2 linked regions of the Homo sapiens genome follow. The protein of the gene in region 2 interacts with the protein of the main gene of each other region in a pairwise test. Each region holds a gene or a part of one and is shown on either strand. Other genes may lie near its edges. The genes, in order: RDH12 and ANXA8L1.

Evidence for each region.
Region 1: the proteins of ANXA8L1 (region 2) and RDH12 interact in a two-hybrid assay, tested with the Homo sapiens proteins (one large-scale study listed by BioGRID).

The regions. Positions count from the first base shown.
Region 1 is NC_000014.9:67,729,386-67,732,885, reverse strand, and holds part of RDH12 (retinol dehydrogenase 12), read right to left. Parts: exon of another isoform or gene 3,145-3,500; coding exon of another isoform or gene 3,067-3,144; intron 1-3,066. UniProt on the Homo sapiens protein: Retinoids dehydrogenase/reductase with a clear preference for NADP. Displays high activity towards 9-cis, 11-cis and all-trans-retinal. Shows very weak activity towards 13-cis-retinol.
Region 2 is NC_000010.11:46,385,492-46,389,264, reverse strand, and holds part of ANXA8L1 (annexin A8-like protein 1), read right to left. Parts: intron 3,554-3,773; coding exon 3,458-3,553; intron 1,680-3,457; coding exon 1,621-1,679; intron 873-1,620; coding exon 750-872; intron 1-749.

The sequences.
Region 1 (3,500 bases), on a different chromosome or scaffold from region 2:
ATCACGGCTGGGCACGGTGGCTCACACCTGTAATCCCAGGACTTTGGGAGGCTGAGGTGGGTGGATCACCTGAGGTCAGGAGTTCAAGAGCAGCCTGGCCAACAAGGCGAAACCCTGCCTCTACTAAAAATACAAAAAACAATTAGCCGGGTGTGGTGGTGGGCACCCGTAATCCCAGCTACTTGGGAGGCTGATGCAGGAGAATGGCTTGAACCCAGGAGGCAGAGGTTGCAGTGAGTGGAGATCACGCCACTGAAATCCAGCCTGGGCGACAAGACCGAAACTCCGTCTCAAAAAAAAGAAAAGTCTATCATTTAGTTGCTTTCTGTACAGTCTTTTTTTTTTTTTTGCTTTGTTTGGATATAAATAGAGATATAGTCTCTCTCTCTCTTTCTCTCTTACATAAAACCGGGATCATACTGTATCTAGTTTGAGGAGGATTTTTTTTTTTTTTTTGAGATAGGGTCTCACTTCATCACCCAGGCTGGAGTGCAGTGGCACTATCATGCAGCCTTGACCTCCCAGGCTGAAGCCATCCTCCCACCTTAGCCTCCCGAGTAGCTGGGACTACAGGCATGCACCACAATGCTGGGCTAATTTTTTGATTTTTAGTAGAGATGGGGGTCTCACTTTGTTGTCCAGGCTGGTATGGAATTCCCGAGCTCAAGCAATCCTCCTGCCTTGGCCTCCCAAAGTACTGGGACTACAGGCATGAGCCGCCACACCCAGCCTTAAATTTTTTTTTTTTTTTTTTTTTTTGAGACAGAGTCTCATTCTGTCGCCCAGGCTGGAGTGCAGTGGAGTGATCTCGGCTTACTGCAGCCTCCGCCTCCCAGGTTCAAGTGATTCTCCTGCCTCAGCCTCCTGAGTGGCTGGGATTACAGGCACCCACCAACATGATCAGCTAATTTTTTGTATTTTTAGTAGAGATGGGGTTACACCACGTTGGCCAGGCTGGTCTCAACTCCTGACCTCAAGTGATCCACCCACCTCAGCCTCCCAAAGTGCTGGGATTACATGCATGAGCCACTGCACCTGGCAAAATTTTTAAATAATAAAAAAACACCTAGAATAAAAAGATAAAAATCATCCTTCACACTCTGCTTGGCTCTCCCTAAAACTCCCTGGAAGTAACCACTACTGCCCAGTGGCTGGTTATCCCTCCAGACTGTTCTCTATGTATAAAAAATCATATAGTTTTGTATTCCAGTTTTTTCCTTACAACATTATATCACTAACATTTTTATATTAATTACATATTATATTAAAATATGATATTTAATGACTGTATATTTTATTACATATTTAAGGCAGCAATGTTAAACACTCAGACTCTAGAGTAGCAACTGTCCAATAGAAATATGATGGGAAGACCAGGCGCAGTGGCTCACGCCTGCAATCCCAGCACTTTGGGAGGCTGAGGTGGGCGGATCACTTGAGGTCAGGAGTTCAAGACCAGCCTGGTCAACATGGCAAAACTCCATCTCTACTAGAAATACAAAAACTAGCTGGGCGTCGTGGCATGCACCTGTAATCCCAGCTACTCGGGAGGCTGAGGCAGGAGGATCCCTTGAACCCAGGAGGTGGAGGTTGCAGTGAGCCAAGATCATGCCATTGCACTCCAGCCTGGGCAACAGAGTGAGACTATGTCTCCAAAAAAAAAAAAAAAAAAAAAAAAGAAAGAAAGAAATATGATGAGAAACACAATTGTGAGCCACATATGTCATTTTGAATTTTCTAGCAGCTACATTTAAAATGTAAAAAGAAATTGGTGAAATTTATTTAGTAACATTTAATTACACATTCATTTATTGAGTTAATAAATATGTACTTTATTTAACCCACAAATAGCAAAATCATTTTAGCATGCAATCAATATAAAAAATGAGATATCTTTTATCTCATTTAAAAATATAAAATGAGATAACTTACACTTCTTTTTTTATACTATAGGTTGAGCATCCCTTATCAGAAATGCTTGGGGCTGGGCGCGGTGGCTCACGCCTGTAATCCCAGCACTTTAGGAGGCCAAGGCAGGTGGATCAACTGACGTCAGGAGTTCAAGACCAGCCTGGCCAACATGGTGAAAGCCCATCTCGACTAAAAATACAAAAACTAGTCAGGTGTGGTGGCGGGCACCTGTAATCCCAGCTACTCAGGAGGCTGAGTCAGGAGAATCGCTTGAACCCAGGAGGCTGAAGTTGCAGTGAGCCAAGATCAAGCCATTGCCCTCCAGCCTGAGTGACAAGAGTGAAAATCCATCTCAAAAAAAAATGCTTGGGATCAGAAGTATTTAGGATTTTACATTTATTTGAATTATGAAATATTTGCATTGTACTTACCAGCTGAGCATCTCAAACCCCAAAAATCTAAAACCCGAAATACTCTGAAATCCAAAACATTTTTAGCAGCAACATGCAACTCAAAGGAAATGCTTACTGAAATATTCCGGACTCCGAATTTTCAGATTTGTGATGCTCAACCTGTATGTCTTCAAAAATCTGGTATGCACTGTACACTTACAGTGCATCTCAATCTGGACTAGCCATATTTCAAGTGCTCAATAGCAACATGTGGCTAGTGGCTACCATACTGAATGGCACAGCTCTAGAGCCAGATTGCCAGGGCGTAAATCCCAGATCTACCACTTATAAGCTATATGACTTTGAGCAAGTTTCTTAATTATCTTGCGCCTCAGTTTCATGTGAAAACTTGGGGTAATATTACCTGCCTCGCAGGGTTGTGATGATTATATGAATTAATACACATTACACACTCAGAACTGAGTACCAAACACATTATAAAAACTCAAGCAACATTAGCTATTATCACTTATCCATTCCCCTCTCATCAGACACTAAGACTATTTCCAGTGCTTCACGGAATAAATACTGCACTGATGAAAAGCCTTGAACAAAGCGGGACAACAGAGCAGACAGGGCTGGATTCTGTCATGGAATGGGAAAGAGATTTCACCCTGGGCTTCCCTTTACTCCCAGACTCTAGTTGCTCATTGAGTTCATGATAAGATTCAGCACTAAAATTTCTACTTCTATATTTCAACAGATAGTGCCAATCTTGGCAGCATTGAGGGACAGAGTTCACACCGAAGAGAGAGGACGTTCCCCTAGCACTTTGTGCTAATTGGTATTTAAAAATTCATGAATCAAGTGAGCCAAAAGCTTAAAGAAGGAGAAAAACGATCCAGATCTCCATGGCATAACCAACAGCGACAGTCTTCTTTAAAAGCTTTCAGAAAGCTGCAAAGTTTTCATGGAAAAGCGGCACACGAGTATAAAATAAAGCCAGAAAAGCAACTCTTCCCAACACATAAGTTTGTACTGTAAGTTTCCTTAACAAAGCAACGGCATTCTGTTTGCAGGCCCAACCCAAACCTGGATTGCATCATCAGGCACAAACTCAGCTTCTCAGGATGAACAGCCCAGCGAGTCCGGCACCTCCCATGCACACAGGTGGTGGAGAGAACCGCATTGCCTTCA
Region 2 (3,773 bases):
CCCCTGCCCACCTGTTTCAAGATGTTGCCATCTTGAAACATCTGGAAACAGAAATGTCTTTTCCACCTATTGTCAGCTATGTGTTTCTTGAAAAGTGCACTTAACAACGACATTTGCAGAAGAGCTAGAGACTTGACTTAGTAGCCAAAGAAAACTTGGGGATACATTTGTCCTAATGTGACTTCTGCTAATGAAATCATCAAGACCTCAATTTGCAGACACCCCCAGAAGAGCTGTTTCTCCCAATTATCGCAGCGTGATAATCAGTCTGTGTTTTGAAGGCTCCAGAACTTTTGCTAATTGGAATCTGGTTAGATAGTCTATTGGCGCTCATCTGACTTATCTCCTTAGAAGTTGGCCGCCAGGACTACTTAAATCTGGATTTGAGCGGTGGGCCCGATTCCTACCGGACTAGTTCATCTCATTGACTATTCAGAGGTGGCTTCTTCTGCAAGGATTTGGTGTCTTTTCCAAGGAGCAACCATAACTTAAATGTGAAACCAACTTTCTGAGTGGGACACAGGGGAGCCTCTGTGCCCTGGTCTCTGCATCTCCCCTCTGCCCCCCATTCCCCTTGGGATCCAGCCACACTGACCTCTGCTGTTCCCTGCACACACCACATGGTCATGAATGCAAGCACATGGTGCCCACTGGGAAGGGAGGGGCTCACGTAGTGTTGGCCACAGCCTCCAGGTTTCCCTGAATGTCTGGGTTTCAGGCTGGCCTCAGCATTGGGAATGCCTGCTTACCATGATCATGCTGCTGAGGGTCTTGCCGTACATCTTCTTGAAGTGACATTTGATAAGATTTAAGTCAATCTCGCTCCTTGAAACGATGTTTCTTATCAGGGTCCCATCACGCGTCCCTGCTCCCTGGGCAAGACAGCAGCCATCAACAATCCTGCCTCACCTTTCCTGTCCATCTCTGAGTGATGGACGGATCTGTGTGGTTGGGTTCTGGGGCTTTTAGAGGGAGGGAGATGTGGGAAGGAGCCTGTGCTTCAGCCAGGGAAGCATTAGGAGGGAAGCTTTGGTGGCTTAGGGTGTCCACTCCCTTAATTCCTTCTCACCCACTGCCCAGAACTCTTCCTTTATGATGCCAAGTGCTCCAAACTGCAGTATGTTTGGTTTGCCACATCAGATTCTAGACACAAAATACTCACTGCTCCAGGAACAAGACTTCCTACTAGAGCAATGGCAGCAATCAGCTCAGCCAGGAATTTCACAGGCAGGGCCTTCCTGCTCACCTTCATCCCTGACCAGTCTCATGTCAGCTGGGGCCACATGGCCAAGGGAATCGCATGCCCTCTCTCATTTCCTGGGCAGAAGTGGCCAGAGGGCTTGGGTTTCGGGTGTGGAACTAACTTCAGGGGATATCAGCAACCATCAATCAGAGAAAACGGGCAATGGTTTTAGTTTCAGGGAATTATTCACCTCTGGAGATGCAGCGTCCCTTTCCCAGACTCAATTTCACCTCCGAGAACTAAAACCTTTCTGATCCACGACAGGTTTGGGTAAGATAACTCCCCCGTGTGGAGGATCGTGGTGGCTTTGAGCTCCTTGGCTTTGCACTTGGTGCTATGTAGGGTGAGCGTCAGGAAGAAGAAGACAGGACAGTTACCTTCATGGCATAGTAGAGTCTCTCTGCAAAGTAGCTGTGGAGGTTTTGGGTGCATTTCACTGGCAAACAAGAAAGCTGTGTTAATGTCTGGAGCTGGTAGGTGGCACTGCCTACAACTTTATGTCTTGCCTTAGGTCTTAAGAGTCAGTGTTGTGCAAGGCTTGGCATATTTCTTTGTTCCGTGCCTTTCCCAATGTGAGAGGCTTTGTGTCAGGTGGCGTGGGACAGGGAAGGTAGCCCGGGGCACTGGGCACAGCTCCAAAGGCCCAAGCAGGCAGGCAAAAGGGTAAGATGTGAAATGCACCAGACTGTGGGGCTCGTCTGAAGACACCAGCTCAAGCCCATCCAAGGGCAGCTCAGACTCAGGACAGGCCCTGGGCTCTCAACCCAGAGACACCTCCACCAAAAATCCAGCCTCTCAGCTCCACAGAAGCACCATGGGATGGTGGCTGCTGGCCTCAGAGTGCCCTCTCTCTCACACTTATCAGCAGAAACCCTGCATTTTGAATTCCCATGTGACAAGTGGAGTTTGGCCCCACAGGACTAAGGCACCTGGGGGCGTCTGGTCCAGAGACTGGGCCCATGCTTGCTCCCATGGGTACTGCTCAGAGACTTGGCATCTGGGTGGGGAAGGTTGGCATTTTCACTTAGGGCTGCAGAAGGAGCATGGGCTTTGAGTGAGGTAGGCATGTGTTCACTTCCTGCCTTGATGGTGCAGTATGGCTTCATTACTCAACCTCCCTGACTCATCTGGGAAGTGAGACTGATGCGAGGCTTCAAGGTGAAGTGAATAGGAAGGCCCAGCATGACGGAGCACTGCATGGCTTCACTATTCCCTGCTGGCAGACTTCATTCTTGGTGGGTTCAGGCCAGATCCAGGGGTGGAAGCTGAGATTGGAGCAGGGGTGTGATTAGATGTCCTGACATAGACCGGATTGTATCACAGCATCCAAGGCCAGCTGGGGTGTCTCAGATGGCCCTGTCCACCCAGAGAGGCTAGGAAACAGCAGGGAGCCTGCTGGCTGCTGGCTTTGCACGGAGGCAGCCTGGTGTGGAGGTGAGAGCTGCAGGCCAGGAGTCCGGACCTGGGCTCTGTGTGTAAGTGGGAGAAGAGACGTCCCTCTGCCCTGGGCCTCAGCTCTTTACTCTGCAGTGACTCTTCCCATTGTGATCTCAGCCCTGGAACCCATGAGAGCTCTGGAGTGGGTCCTCCTGAGTGGCCCTGACTTCCTGCTGTGGGGAAGATCCCCAGTGTTTCTCAGCATCAGACCATCCGTCACTCAGTTTGGACTCAAGCCACACATCACTGTTTCTTCAACTGGCAATGAAGGCAGGGGCCAGGCCCCTGGTTCATGTCCAGAAAGATGACTTTGTGCTGGCCAGGGCTTCACAACCACAGCCAGAGTGCTCCCTGCATGGCTGCCATGAGTACACACAGGGTTGGGGCTGGCATAATCACTGGCGTATGCATTTGTGTGCGCACACACACACACTGTCTGTCTCACACACACACACTCACATTCCACCCACAGTCATGCACACACACCCTCAGGCACACACACTCTCACGCACACACACACTCATGCAGACACACCCACACAGCACTGGGCACCACGTGGGCAGCACAGAGAACAATCTTTGGCAGCACACACTGGGACTCTAGAGGTGGAGCAGTCCCTGGGTGAGGGAGACAGGCAGAGTGTGAGTCGGGGGGACATCCCGTGAAGGTGACACAGGGATTCTTTCTCTTGTGGTCGCATCCCTAGGCCCTTTGTTCTTTGGTGCTGCCCCACGGTGAGCCCTGTGGCCTGAAAAACGTGCAAGTCTGAGCTCTTACCCACAGTGAGCATGGCCTCCTCCAGTGAGCCATGGGTCTCACTCTTGATGCTGTCCTCAATGCTCTTGTTGGCAATTTTCTCATACTCTTCAAACACTGTGGAGAGGGCTCTGCTCAGGGGATGGTCAGACCTCCTCGTGATGCCCCTCAGTGTCTCGGATCAGAGATCGCACATCAATTTGCCGCCCTGACCTCCCACTGGTGGCTGGGGAAACAGTCCTGGGCTCCCTGGCTCTCTCCCTAACTCTAGACTTGACAAGGCAGAAGCACGAGGGAGAGGCTCATGGCCAGGACACCCCTGTGGCCCCGGCCCCAG